Regions from separate parts of the Homo sapiens genome. Here region 2 is linked to region 1. A link means that fine-mapping ties the variant in region 1 to the expression of a gene that starts in the linked region. Tissue or cell type: blood mononuclear cells. Region 1 holds a variant in brackets; the other region holds the start of a gene. All regions are shown on one strand. Distances are between the middles of the regions.

What was found. PIP is the estimated chance that this variant, and not a neighbour inherited with it, causes the effect.
Region 2: it holds the start of SHISA2, and the variant in region 1 is fine-mapped to the expression of SHISA2 in blood mononuclear cells (TOPMed, PIP above 0.99). The same link has a PIP of 0.9 or more in T cells and whole blood.

What each region holds. Positions count from the first base shown.
Region 1 is chr13:26,013,627-26,021,723 of GRCh38, forward strand. It overlaps ATP8A2 (ATPase phospholipid transporting 8A2), which reads left to right. Exons shown (of 37, transcript NM_016529.6): 37 at 6,262-8,097. The coding sequence ends at 6,359. Among named protein-coding and RNA genes, the nearest start is that of SHISA2, 34 kb to the right of the region's middle. The variant G/A (reference allele first, on the strand shown) is at 4,103.
Region 2 is chr13:26,048,506-26,055,641 of GRCh38, forward strand. SHISA2 (shisa family member 2) reads right to left here and starts at 3,511. Exons shown (of 2, transcript NM_001007538.2): 1 at 2,137-3,511. The coding sequence starts at 2,470. It overlaps LINC00415 (long intergenic non-protein coding RNA 415), which reads right to left. Exons shown (of 2, transcript NR_146971.1): 2 at 3,771-4,167.

The DNA.
Region 1 (8,097 bases):
TCATGCCATTGCACTCCAGCCTGGGCAACAAGAGCGAAACTTGGTCTCAAAAAAAAAAAAAAAGAAAGAAAGAAAGAGACAGATTTATGAACGTGAAGAATCATTGTTCACACAGTACAGGCAGTGAAGGATCTGTGTTCTGTTGAGCTCTGCCTGTCAACAGGTATTTGCAGACTTTCTCAATGGAGAGAGAAGGAGGGAGACAGAGTATCATTGCTTTTCAGTAATCTACCCCCTGTCCTCACTTTCCCATGTGGAATATCGTATGGGAAGAAGGGGACTGACATGCTTCTGTCCTTTAATGCTCCACTGCCCTGGGAGGTGGGTAATGCCACCCCAAGGACACAAAGCAGAGGCTCAGGTCAGAAAGTGGGTGGCCCAGCATTGCTCAGTGGCATGCCATGAGGTCTGGATTGCAGCCTCAGACTCTGGCCCAAAAGAGAGGTAAGTCAAGAAGTTTGATGGGACAGGAGTGCTAACTGTAGGGCAGCCCTCTGGAGATGGGCTGCCTGGGTTCCTGTCCCTGCTCCCCTGCTTTTTCGTGACCTTGGGCATGTTACTTAATGTCTGCTTCTGCATCTGTAAAGTTGGGTAATATGAGAACTTACTGGATGCCAGAGGTTCAGTGTAGGTCCTGCCACCCACAGCTGCACAGAAAGCCAATCACTGAAACAACAATTATAGCCAAGGAAGAAGGCTTTATCTGGTGCTATAGCCAAGGAGGTGGCAGATTAGTCTTAAATCCATATCCTTGACTGACTAAAATTAGGGGTTTATATAGCAGGGAAGAAATGTTAACAATGTGTAAGAAAACAGGAATCAGTAGGGGTAAGGAAGCAATCAAGATGAATGAGGGGCTTAGCATCTCGTTGTCTGGATGAGATCATTGGGTGAGTTTCAGATCTTTGCTACTTTTCGAGAGGCCTGTGGGTCCCTACCTAAGGAAGGAACTCAGATAAAACAAATACAAATGTCAAGCTTTAAGACCAGAAGGGTCATTTCTATGTTAAAAAAACAAAAAAACAAAAACAAAACTGTCTATGGGACTATTGGGTTGGTTTCAATTAGGAGGATTAAATGAGATCATAAAGATAAAGTGTCTATATAGGCAATATAGGGTCCAATAAATGTTGGGTATTATTATTCTGCCATTAGCTGAATAATTTTGGGAAACTTAATTTCTCTAAATTTTTATTTTCTCCTGTGGAGAAAAAAGAATTTTAATGATATACATCTTACACAGTCCTGTGAGTCTTCATGACAGCATGTGTAAAGCACCTTCTGTATGCCAGACACAGAGAAAACACATACAGGTTCCCAGAACTCTACAGGGTCTGTTCTGTTGAGCCGTGTTGCCTCTCTGATGAATGTTTCAAAATAACCATAGACAGAATATACACGATATATATGTTGTGATCAAAGACCGAATGAGAATTTTTATGGGAGAGTCATAAATGTCTTAAAGACAACTACTAAATGCTTTTCTTAAGTCAATATTTTGAAGGCCAAAAAAAAATCTACTGAATAAATATAAGAAATAAGAAGGCTTCTGAAATCACACCACATTTTTTAAACATTCAGTGACTAGTACCAGAACCTGATGGATAACTTAGGACGTTTCTGTCACTAACAGCCAGAGAAGATCGTCGGGTGGTCAGAGCTGGTCCTGGGGTGCAGGATGGGCATATAGCAGGTCTCAGCCTTTGATGTTCCGCCTGGGTCTGTCCAGGAAACTAGCAGGAAAAACTCTAATCTTGGTAGTATTTTAGTTCCTGTGAGCCACCAACATACAATATTTGTAATCAGCATTTCCTACACAGTCTGATTTCCTCTTTGTCCCCATGGTCTTCTCATTTCTATGGCTATTAGGAATCTTTCCAGACAGGAAACTGCTATTTTCATTAAGATGCTATCAGAGCACAGATTCAAAGGAATGCTACTTAAGGGGAGTTTTATTCCAAAATAATGAAAAAAAAAGACATAATTTTATGGATTTCACCAAATGTTCTACCCGGAGAAGACAAAACAACTAAGAAATCCGTCTTTCCTCCCACCTCCTTTCACCTACACGATTCTGTTCTCCATTCTGGCTGTGGCTGTTTAAGAAAGCAGATGCTTTAGGAAGCCAGCCAGGGAAAGTTCAGTTAGTTGGGTCCATGAGAGCTCCCTCCAGGCCCCCATCAGGACTTTTCTGGCTGTTAGGACTTCCTGAAACATGAGTGAAAGTAGGGAGTGCAAAGAGCTGGAGGCTTCCTCCGAGCTCCCCGTTTGGATGCAAATGACAGTTAAAGGTTCATTAGGCAGAGCTGGGGAGCAGGTCTGTATCTTCATCCGGTGGGACAGAGGCTGGGCAGGCAGGACTGGTTGAGGGGTGATGGTGTCTGGTTTTCCAGTAAAACTCCTCCCATGACAGCTCTAACTCCCGCCAGGCCTGGTTTCTAAGAGGAAAATGTTTAATCTGAAATTTTATCTGAACATGGGAGGACTCCCTCTCCCAAGATAAACCTATCAGGCCATTCTCCTTTCACTCTTGAATTGTAGAGTCCACTTTCATTCTCGGTTAAGGTTAAGAAAGTCTTAGCGTACAACACGCTGGAAATGTGGTGGTAGGTGCAGCCAATGGGAACTAGGGAGGATGGTGGGAGACATTTAGCACAGACCTCACGTTGCTCTACTTACCCTGGGAGGTTTACAACAGGAGGGGCAACTCTTCTCTGCCTGTCTCTTCAAAGGGAAACCTCGAAACCCTTCCCATCCCAGAGGGGCCAAATCATCCCGCTGCAATCCCATGGGAGGCCCTTGTGGCCATGGCACTAATGCACACAGAAGAAGTGACAGAGTTATGAGCTGAAGAAACCCCCGGAGTTGGGTTTCCAGTAGACACAGGCATGTTATGGAAAACAAGATAAATAAAAGAAAAGGCTTTTGCACCTTCCATTTGAACAGGGAGTAGACTATTCCAAAGGCTAAGATACCTTTCCCGAAAGGACACTCCCTAATTTATTTTTATGTCTCCATGAGTTCCCCCCAACCAGGAGAAAAAAGCAGGCCAAAAGAGGTATAATAGGTAGTTAATTATTCTTTTTGGATGGACTGTTGACACCGACCCTTTCTTTTCTGACGTGGATGCAGAGGCCTCCGTGTTGGTGCAGTGTGAACTAGCACTGACAGAGGGAGAGAATCCTGCAGCCTGGGTGTGACGGGCCATGAACATGTCCTGGAGCCCATAGAGAGGACTGGAGGTTGAGAGAACTTGGGCCTTGCCTGGTCCAGGCCATTTAATTTACAGAAAAGTACATCAAGACCCAGGGAGCTTAAAGATCCCAAAGTCACATGGACAAGTAGCAGCAAGCAAGGACTAGAACCACCCTTTGTTTCCTGGCCACCACCCTGACCCCATGCTGCAGCCACTTGGGGCCACCAGAATCTAAGATGAAAACAAGCGAGTGGAGAAAGACATCTTCAGGGTGGAGAGCTCAGTAGTCCTCAGCTTCCCACCGGAAGAGTTTATAAAAGAGTATGTCCCATTCTTTGGGGTGACTGTTCTTTACTCAGAACCACTTCTGTAGGACTGAGGAGCAGCCCCGGGAGTGGTGCAGCAGCTGTGGAGCCAGTGACGACCCTGCCATTGCAGCTGCTGTTCTGCCAGGCCCCCTCAGGATGACTTCAGATGTGGACTAGAAACGTTCCTTGTTAAAGAACTGGAGAATGGAAATTGTCCAAGTTGACCACAGTACATAGCCTTGTTACTGGAGCAGACGAAGCAGTGTTATTTGCTAGATTTTGCTTTGAAACATCCCAAGGAAAGACGTCTCCTCTTGGACTGCAGTAAAAATGCTTCATAAAGGGCAGCTTGTACAGGATTGGGGATGAGAGTGTGTGTGCCACACGGTGCCAGAGGGAGGCAGGAGGCTGGGGCAGCTCCTCCAAAGCTGGGCAACGGAGGTTTCCTTGTCCCTGCTGCTAATCTCTGATTAAGCAACTTGGTGAAAATCCAAAAGCTCTTAGGAGAACAGGAGTGGTGGCATTTGCTCTTCGGTGCTTGAAAGCAGATCATGTGAAAACTCTAAAGCCCTGAGAATCAAAGCACAGCCACCTACCT[G/A]GTCAGGAAGTTCAAGTGCACTAGGTGTGGGCCCAAGGCTGGCACAAGCATATCCGCCCCCAAGGGAGCTCCCCTCCAGGCTGATGCTGCCTTCAGGCTCAGACACCCACCTGCTCCTGTACCCAGCTGTCTGAGGGCTCACAATGGTCTGGGAGCTGCTTCACTGTGGCTACCATGTGGTGGGAATTTTTGGTTTGTAGGTTTTGTTTTGCTAGAAATGGAGGTGAGCAAGTAGACAAAAGCCCCCTGTGGAAGATTCCTCTCTGTTCTGTTCTCTTCTGTTCTGTTCACCCTGGCTCAGCTTGTATCACCTTCTCTCCCGCCCACTGTCTCTTCCTCCTGTGGCCTCACTGGTCTGGGCCCTCCTCCCTGCTGCTCAGCCCATGTCCTCAGTCAACTCTCAGGCCACCTCTGCAGACAAGCCCTTGCCTCCCCCGATAACCCCCCTGAGCCTTTGGGATTCTCAGGCAGTGGCCAGAAGGCATGCTCTCTGGAAGAGCCAGGAAGCCAGCCCAGGACCGGGACTCTCAGTTATGGGAACACACAGAGTAAGAAAACAGCCTGAGTGTCTTCTTTTAAAGTCTCCTCCTCTTCTCCATCCCACGAGGACTCTTCTGTCTTGTTACTGTATGTCTTGATACTCTAGAAATTTCCTTTTTAAGCCAGATGCCTCAGGAAATTAACAGGCAGTCCAGGAACTGATTCATGGGCACCCTTTTCGACTTCTTTTCTCCTTTTAAAGAGTATGACAGTGAACTCACAGCTCCCCTGATAAGTTGTACGCATGCATGGATGGAATTCAAGATTGTCAGGTTTTTTTATTGTGTTGTCTTTTGGCCAGAATGTCTAATTGAGCTGTGGGACTTTTCCAGACCCCTGACACAGAAGGGTTAGCCAATGGAGAGCAGGCCTTATAAATGTCTTTCTGTGGGAAGGGCCAGTTGGAAGAAAAGCCCCACTCTGGGCTTGTGAACACTAAAGCTGGTTCTCAGCTCTAGAGTGTGGACCCTGGGTTTGCTTCCCAGCTCTGCCACTCACGAGGTCTGTGACCTTGGGCAGGTCACAAAAATCTCTGTGCCTCAGTTTTCTCATCTGTGAAGTGGGAGGAGTATAATCCCCTATCTCATAGGGTTTCTGGGAGGATTAAATGAGCTTTATTTTATAGCACAGTGTCTTAGACACATGGCATTTAATGAGTCTTGGCTATTATTTATTTTATTAATAGTATATGAACTGATTGTGTAAGAATAGTCTTTGTATGGCCACAGGTCCAATCAATCACTAAATTCCTTTTGAGTTTATTGTGTAACCTTTTTCTTTACATGGAAACAACCCTACTTTGATTACTTATTACCAGTCCAGATCAGTCTGATTTAAAAACAGGGCTGGGTGTGGTGGCTCAGGCCTGTAATCCCAGCACTTTGGGAGGCCAAGGTGGACAGATTGCTTGAGGTCAGGAGTTTGAGACCAGCCTGGCCAACATGGTGAAACCCCGTCTCTACTAAAAATACAAAAAAAAATAGCTGGGCGTGGTGGTGCATGCCTGTAGCCCTAGCTACTCAAGAGGCTGAAGCAGGAGAATTGCTTGAACCCTGGAGGCAGAAGTTGCAGTGAGCTGGGATCGCGCCACTGCACTCCAGCCTAGGCGGCAGAGCAAGACTCTGTCTCAAATAAATAAACAGGAAGGCTCCAGGTATCACGTGCATTTTGCCAGCTTGCACTATTAGTGTTGTGTGTGTGTTTCCCTGGCATGTTTACAGCTTCATAAATTAGCTGGCTGCCCTACAGCATCAGGCAGACAGGAGTGTTTTTTCTTAATTGGCAGTGGGAAAGTGGAGTCGGGGACCAGTGACCCACTGTGTGTGATTCCCACACTGAGCTCAGCCGCAGCCCCCTAGAAATAGGAAACCTACCCTCAGAGGCTTTCCCTTCCCAGCATCAGCAGCTAGAACCATGGGACCCCAGTTAGCCTGCACACGGCCGCCACGGCCCCTCTATGGCCACAGGTTTCTTCATCTCAAGCCTCCACCTATCCAAGGCTAAGGAGGCCAGATGTCGCACTCACCCGCACGCTGCCAAAAAAAAGCAGCTTATTTTAAACCTAGTGTGCTCCCCCAATTCTCCTGTTAACCAGTTTCTCCTGTGTGCTTCACTTTCAGATGGGTATGCTTTTTCTCAAGAAGAACACGGAGCTGTTAGTCAGGAAGAAGTCATCCGTGCTTATGACACCACCAAAAAGAAATCCAGGAAGAAATAAGACATGAATTTTCCTGACTGATCTTAGGAAAGAGATTCAGTTTGTTGCACCCAGTGTTAACACATCTTTGTCAGAGAAGACTGGCGTCAGCAGCCAAAACACCAGGAAACACATTTCTGTGGCCTTAGCCAAGCAGTTTGTTAGTTACATATTCCCTCGCAAACCTGGAGTGCAGACCACAGGGGAAGCTATCTTTGCCCTCCCAACTCGTCTGCAGTGCTTAGCCTAACTTTTGTTTATGTCGTTATGAAGCATTCAACTGTGCTCTGTGAGGTGTGAAATTAAAAACATTATGTTTCACCAATATTTAAACATCAGTACTAGTTGTCCTGGGAGAAAGGGAAAGGAGTTTTATGTTGCGTGAGAGGCCCATCCTGTGTAATTGGAGCAGGGCACACTTGCTTCCTGTTGAGTTAACTCAGAGGTTAAGTCCAACGGGCCACATGCAGACTTCACTGTAGGCAGGTTGCTCTCCTGCTTTGATTCCTGTTTTGTGTGTAAAATTGGCATAAACTTCTTGATTGCAGTGAAATCACAAAATTCTCTATCGGGGTGGTCAACCTGAGAACATTTATTTGAACCTCTTAGCCACATTTCCAGCAGGGCAAACCAACTGATGCCCTGGAAGAGTCTTCCGCACCCTCTCCAGGTGCACTCGGCCCAGTCCTGCCGCCGTGTCCAGGCGCCCCTCACCCCCACACCTGCTGCATGGCTGGCCACACCACTCAGTGCATGGCGGCCGATGGGCAGCCAACCCAAACCCGCGCCTTTCCTTGTTCCACTGCAGACTCAGATACAGATGCGAAAAATTCCTTCTTCCACCGCCCTTCTCGTTCTGTAAAGAAAGAAAAGAAACATAGCCTTTCTGCATATATTCTAAACGTCTCTCTGCCTCTGTCTGACATGGGGCCACCCCACAGGTCAGAGTGGTGGTAGAACCCCTTCAGGACTCCCAGCCGTGGTCAGGCTCTGAATACTCCCTTCCCAACATCCAGACTGCTGGGCCTTTGGCATCCACTTACATTAGAACCCACGTTTGTTTCAGAGCACATTTTGGACTTTCACTGTTGGGAAATGAATGAATTTATAACATGCCTGCACAGCGAAGGAACACACCTGTCGCTCTTAGCTCTAGAGTCAGAGGATGAGTAAACCCAGATGCAAGAGTATAGGACATTGAGTGGGGAGAACAAGACGACCACAGAAGTCCTCAGAAGGAGAAGGAAGGACACGGAGACACTGAGAGGAGGACACAGAGGAATCGCCACCAGATCTTTGCAGTAGAAACTCTGAAATAGGCCTTGAGACCCAGACAATTGTCATGATCAGCCCAGTGTGTATGAGAGCTTAAACAAGACCTTCACACACAGTTCTAATTGAAAAGAATTCCAAACATTTCAGGGAAACACCTTTTTAAAAAATATACTGACATGGTTTCCTTTCTGTATCCCATCAGTGTTAGACACAGGTACCTATCAGAATACGGCATATCCTGAATTATCTAAGACAAGGAAGTGAAGAGCGGAATCACTGACTTTCCCAACTGCAGAGTCCCACACTTAAATCTCAACAGAACCTAGATGTCTTCAGGCATGAATGTGAGCACCTGGAGCCCTTACTAAACAACCTGCCTGGAGCCCTGTTCTCTGCTCTGGTTGCCAAACCAGATTTTTGGATGGCCTAAATACTTGTGGGCAACTGTTACTGGTGAAAAATGGGAGTGGAGAGCATGTTTTGG
Region 2 (7,136 bases), 34 kb after region 1:
CCCAACCTCCTGGCTATATTTTTGGGAAATACATAAGCACAGGGGTGGATTGGGTCTTACTGGTCTTGGCAAAGCATAATGCCAGCCCAGAGTCGGATGGGGCAGCATTTTAGGAAGGAGACCACGCCTTTGAGGTCAGCTCTATGAATACCCTTTCATCATCCATTAGAGCAGCCGGGCTTTCTAATTATGCTCCTTTTCACTGTTCTGGTATTGCTGGAGTCAGTGTTTTTAAAGTATAATACCAGGTGGAATTATGGAGAAATAATGCCCTGTAAGTAAAACAATACTTTATAGGTATTTAACCAAAGGCTGACTGTGGAATATTTCCTGGAGTTTCAATGCTGAACAGAGCAATTTCTATATATAGCGCCCCTTTAGCAGGTAGAAACATTTGCTACAGTGTCTGCAGCACAGCTGGCGCCCAGCAGTAGAACTGTCCTAATTACACTATCACTTCAGGCTAACTACGGATCACTGGAGAAGTGGATGCAGGCTTTTTCCTTGGCGTGTTATAAATATTTCATTCTCTAAATTAAGACACCAGCCCTAAATATGTTATCAAAAAATAAATTAATAGTAGTAAAGCAGGAAAAAAAATGTACCCCAATCATAGCAGAAACTAGCTGAAACCAGCCTCAGTCCACATAATGAGTTTTGGGGAGAAATAAGTGTTCTCTTTCCAGGATTTTTAATTGGAAATGTAAATAACTACACAGGGATAAGGAATGTAACGCTACTATAAGCCCCCCGGCAGGCTTAATTAGGCATGTTGCCCTTCACTGCAGAAGAAAAGTGAAAGAAATACAATTTTTAGGAAAAAAACGTTTAAAAGTAGCATGAAGAAGGCATCCATGCACAACACAGGGCGTCATGAGAAGTCTCGTCCTGAGAAGTCCCGACTAATCCAAAGCCATCCCAACTTTTTGGAGACCATTAATGAGCCCAATCTAGCAGACATCTCACTGTAGCAGTTCGGGGTCTGGCTCCCTTCTCTGGGCTTTCTTCCATGGCCACACAGTCTGCGAGACTGAGCTTGCGTTTTAAGACTGCGCTGGTTCTGGAATTACGCTCTCTTCAGATTCAAGACAGCAGAACAATAGGAGTAGCATGCTAATAAAATGCTTGACTGCGAAAGGGAACGGCACTGAAAAGAGCTGTCTCTCACGAGGTCCTGGGAGGCAGCTCTATAAACACAAACTACGCTGTGCCAAAGCTCAAGCAGCCCGAACCCAGGCTCAGGATGCTAGCGAAAAGCCTCCCAGGTAAACACAACGGGCCCACAAAGAGGAGGAGCCGCCCCCTCGGGGACACGTTTGCCATTTTACCTCTACACCTCCCCTCCCCCGAAATAAATAACACACACACACACACACACACACACACACACACACACGGAGTGACTGGTGTAGACACCCCAGGGAGGCATTCCGGAAGGTTTCTGAAGAGTGAAGTGCAACCTACCAAATTCTTTCACGGGTTTACTTTCCAACTCTGGCTTTGGCAATTTGAAAGAAAAAAAAAATCAAAGCCACAAAGAGCAAGGCTGGGCACTGCTCCGATGTTACACCTACTAAGTCTGACGTGGTAAGGAAAACAGTCCAGAAGCCCCACAGGCGGGCCGCTGCAGGGGAGAGGGGCCGCCGCGTGGAGAAGATGGGAATCCGCGGCGTCTGGCACGGGGCAGCAGCCCCGGGAAAGCCCTGAGGAGCTGCCTTCCTTTCGGGGAGCCTTCAGGGGAGCACCGCTGCCAGGCCCTCACGGGTGGGGGCGCACCCTCGCCGTCTCCTTGGGTACCCCTAAGACATGAAGCCCTATGGAGACAGGAGACGCCAGAGGGGCCCGGAGGACCCTGGTCAGAAGGAATATGGGGGCTGTCTGTGGCCCACACTGCCTTAGGAGTGTGATTTTGTTCGGAAAATTAACTCTAAGCCACCCTTTGGCTGACAGATGGAGAAACTGAGGCCCGTGAGGGTGAATTAGGGACCCACACCGACCAAATAATAAGCCAGAAGGCAGACTCCGCCTCCTGGTCCTAGGCCCTTTCCTGAATTTCCCCCCTTCAAACTCCCAGGTCCCTGACGTCCAGGCAACGCCAACCGTCCTCCCTTTCGCGCTGGGCGCAGGCCGCCCTACCTGCCGAGCCGTCGGGGCCGTCTTTGTCCGCCCGGCCAGGCTCGCCAGCGCCCTGCTGGCGGTCATTGTCGCAGCCGCCCTGGTCCAGGCGCGCCTCGGCGCTGGAGCAGCAGTAGCGCAACGCGCAGCTGCCGCAGCAGATGGTGGCGTCGCCGCCGTCGAAGCGCTCGGGACACTGGAAGCCGATGCGCCAGACGCCCTGCGCGTCCAGCCAGCCGTGGCAGTACTCGCCGCTGGCCCTCGCCCCCGCCGCCAGCAGCGCAGCCAGCAGCAGCTGCAGGAGCGAAGCGGCGTTCCAGGATGAGGAGACGGACGAGCGGCGAGCGCCCCACATGGCACCACCCTGGGCGCGGACAGCGCGTCTCCAGAGAGCGCAGGACGGTCTCCGAGAAGTCGTGGCCCCGGCGACCCCCGGGCCTCGTCACTGACTGTCCCGCGGCGCTTTCCGCGCGGGCCACTCCCCTCTGCCGCGACGCCCAGGAGGCGACGACGCCGGGCCCTAGGTCCAGGAGCTCCTAAGCCATCCCCGTCCTCAGCCGGTGGCCCGGTCCCCTTAGGGACTGCCTTATGAGTTGCACTCGCTGATGGAAATCTCGGGATGCAGTCAGAAGGCCCCCGGGGCTGTCGTCCGGAAGCCTCTGGAGGTTTCACTGGCAACCGGACCCTCCCTGAGCATCCCCGAAGGGATGCTCACTCGAGCCGAATGACCGCTGGGCGCGCCGCCGCGGACCTGGAGCCAGGGCTCTGCGCAGGGTTTAAGCCTCAGGGTCCCGCGCGCGAATCAGGGCCCGTCTCCCCTCCTTTATTCCCTCCTCGGGCGGGTAGAAGGGGCGAAGGCGGGCAGTGCACGCAAGGCTCTGGGCAGCAAGTGACGCAGCCGGCCGCGCTCAGCCTCCTCTGCCCCGAACTTGGTCCGCATGGCTCCGGCCGGGCCGCCCGGGCAGCCCACGGGGGTGCAGCCCCGACGCTCCACTCGGCGGGGCCGACGGCCAATCTTCCCAGCACGTCGCCGAGGGAGCGCTCCTGACCCCGGGAACGTCCAGGACGCAGGCGAGGGTCCTGCGCGCCCCCAGCCGCAGTCCCGGGAGCCTGCCCAGCTGGCGGCGGCCGCGGCTGCTGCTGGGCGCGGATCCAGGCGGGCGGCTCGCCCCGGTTCCCCTTCTCCGCCTCCCCGGCTGCAGCGCGGTCCCACAGGAGCCCGGCAGCCTCCGGCCGGCTCTCCCTCTCCCGGTCGCTGCCTCGCCCTCGGGAGGTGTGCGCACCGATGGAAGCCTCCCACGGAAGTTTCTTTCCTCCGGGCTACGGGAGAAGCCGAGCGCAGCAGCCGCCCACAGCCTCGCCTCGCCCCGCCCGGCGCCAGACCAGCTCCGACTCCGCTCGCTGCCGCGCTGAGCCGCGCTCTTATAGAGGCCGGCGGCTCCCCGGCGCGCATGCGCGCTGCGCGGCTCCCCCCCACCCCCGACCTCAGGGACGCCCGCGGGCGCCGGGCAGCCCCTCACTTTCCTACCCCGGGCAAGGAGAAAGGTGTGGCCAAGGGCGGGGTCTGCCTGCTGGAATAGGCGCGGGAGGAAACCCAACCTAAGCAATCCAGGCCTCGCTAACACAAATAACAATAATAACGGAAGAAACTCAACTTGCTTTGTGAAGATCTTTGGCATTCAACATTCGGTTCGATTCTGCAAACTTCTCAAGGGATTATGATTACTTTCCACTCTGCAGATCATAAAATCGCCACTCAGATGAACTCTCTCGGCTTCCAGCAGCTGATGTCCTGGCCACGGTTGGTCCCAGGCCCTGTGCAGGAAGAGCACCGATGTTTGTGGCAGGGTTCACACGCCTAGGGCTGTGTTTGGTGGACTGGAGGCCTCCACCACAAGGTGGAACGGAGAGAGTTCAGCAAAGATGTCACACATTCGGCCACGGTGTGGATGATCTGTGTCCCTTTTTCTTTCTATATTTGGGTGTGGTGATTTATCGGATTCCAGCAGGAAAGTGCCTCCGTCCAACATGTGGCCTTAGTGGTTTAGACAGCTGCAGTCAGGAAGAAAACAAGGTTCAGACAGACCAGAAATTCAGCTTTGATGAAGGAGAAATTAATAGCTTCTCTCTTGCAGAAGCTGGAACAACAGGTGCTGATGTTATTAAAGCAGCAGTGCTTATTTTTAAAGGAACGAATGCCCCTTCCCACACCGTCTGGGAGTCAGCAGACCTGAATTCTAGACCCAGCCCTACTAGCAGGGAATCACTGCGTTTTTCTGGTCTCAGTTTCTTCATCTATAAAGTGGAGCATAGGATGTGACGATCACTAAGGTCCCTTTCAAGTCCATGACTTCAGAACACAGGCAGTTTTATTCACAGCAAAGACACTCAGGTTCAAGCAGCCATTGGATGCTTGTGTATGCCTGGTTAATGTGAAGATTCAGACATTGTTGATTATTCTTCCACTTGCCCCAACAATGTCAAATCCAAGAAAAAAAACCCTACCCTATGTCCCTGCTCCCCAACACACACCTTATTCTTTTCACTAAACCTCTCTCCAAGCATTGCACTTTGTTTTCTTGCAGTTTTTTGGTTGTGTATCGTTTTAAGCTACACAAAATTATATACTTTAAATGCACTATTCACCAAATGTCTTAAGCTAGTAAGCTAAAAAAAATTTCAATGTCAAGAAATCATTCATTCAAGAAATACACGCCATGCACTTACAGTGTACTGTGCTCTGTGCTGGGTACTGGGACTCATCAAGAAGCCAGACAGCATGGCCATTTCCTTCAAATAGGGCCTAAAGTCTCCAGGGTAAAATACAGAAATCAGACAAAAAGACAAAGAACTGAATAAGCAAAGAGAATGCAAGTATGATCAAAGCTCTTACCCACAATGAGAACAGCATCAATTTAAGCACATAATCTAGGTTAGGGTGGGGAAGGAGGTCAGAAAAATCATCAAAGGAGTAACACTTAAAAAGAGACCAGAAGAAGCCAAGGGAAGATTGAGTTTTTCAGAATGAGTCATTTTCTTAGAAGACACCATTAGCCAACATTTATTGAGAGCTTACTATGGGCTAGGCACCACGCTAAGAATTTCATGTGCATGGTTTCATTTAATCCTCACATCAGCCCTATAAATAAGACAGTATTACTATCCTCATTTTACTGGTGAGGATACTTGCTCAATCCCTAAAGATAGAGAGCGTCGGTTTGCCTGGACTGCACCCAATTCTTCCTGACTCCAAACCCCACTCACCGCACTGCTGATCACCACAGCCGCCACTACAGAAAGCCCAGGATTGATTAACTGGGAGTCCTGTACAGATCATGAGATGCTCCTATGGCAGCACGAGTTGATTTGGGTAGTGTTCAGAGGGTGAATACTTTCAATTTTGCCATTTGGAAAAACAATTAATGCGAGAGAATTGTACTTATTGTTCTATTTAGAATTGTATTATTTCAGACAGTACCTATGCCTATAACCTCCTTCCAGGATCCACTTATCCTACTCACCAAAACATCCACAATTTGTCAGAGTTTATTTATGAAGAAAAAAAATTGTTTAACATTTCATATTGGAATTGATTTGGTGACTGGATAGTGCCACCTTTAAAACACAATGTTTTTGCCAAATAGTCTACAATTTAATCTATAATTGGTGAACTTAGAAGTATGGCGCTCTGAGCAAATTCGTCTTTTTTTTTTTTTTTAATTACTGTGTTTCTTTTCTTCCTTAAAAGTTAAGGAGAGGCCCTTTCATAGTTACTTTACGTAGTGGTTGACTGTCTTCAATGCTGAAAGGTCCTTTATGTCACTTTGTCTCTCTTGTATTATCGTTTCTTTGTGTATCTGGAATGTTGAACTGAAATTTTATAAAATAACTTGCCAAGTATTTAGTGAGGTTCTGCATGGGAGGTGCCACTGGGAGATATTAAAATAGGCTTGTTCCTTCCATAGGAAATAAAAAGAAATTCCCTCATTGGTCTTAACAGACAACCAAAACTATTTCACTCGTTTCTTCTGAGAAGCTATAACTAGTAATTACAACATATAGGTAGTAGTAATCATAATTTATGATAATCAAAATGAAATGTTAGGCAGTCTGCCAAAATATATTGAAAAACATATGAAAGAGTGCAGCCCTCTTTTTAAAAAAGTTGAATTCTATAGTCACTAACTGAAAAAGTATATTTTCAAGTTATTTTGCCTTTCAGTATGTGCCTGTGCATATATATATAAATATATATATGAATAAAATCCAATTGATTTAAAAGCAAACTTCTGACATATCTTCACTAGTACAAATAGCAAGTCATATAACTAAAGAAATGATTACTTACAACTTTACTAACTGGAGTTGATACAAATCAGATGGAGGTAATAATATTTCATTTGGCTGGCAGTTCTAAAAGCTGCAAGATCTACAGTGTTTTTCTGCAAGTTTCAGCAAGAGCAGAAGGTTCTTACCATCTGCACATCCATCAGCAGTCTGTTTAGGGAGAATGGCTTTCACTGGGTTCATTCATTTTTTTTTCTCCTCTTCTCTCATAAATAGAAATAGTACTGAAAATTGGCATTTGGTTTACCAAAAGTTCTTTTAAGTTAGAGTGTTTTTGTGAAAACCCAAACAAATATATTAATTTACATTTATTTTAATTTTGTCTTCTGTTTACCTAAACTTATGTTCAAAAATGTTCATAAATTTATGAAAAAAAATTGTTCTTGCTTTAAAAGTTTTAATTTTTCACCCTCCTTATTTTTATTGTAATTGACATACTGACTTCCAGAAAAGTAATTTCCATATTTTCAATTATATTTCTTCTCATTTGTCATTATAAACTATTGACATAGTTCTCTCTCATCCCCCCTCCTTACTCCATTGTTTTACTGAACCCCCTTTAATTTTGATTTTGATGTTTACTATGGATATATTTCCATTTTGGAGATATGGAGTTTCACGGAGGGCTTATTTCACTAATGCCTTCCTATCTAAAAGAATGGCATAAACAAAAG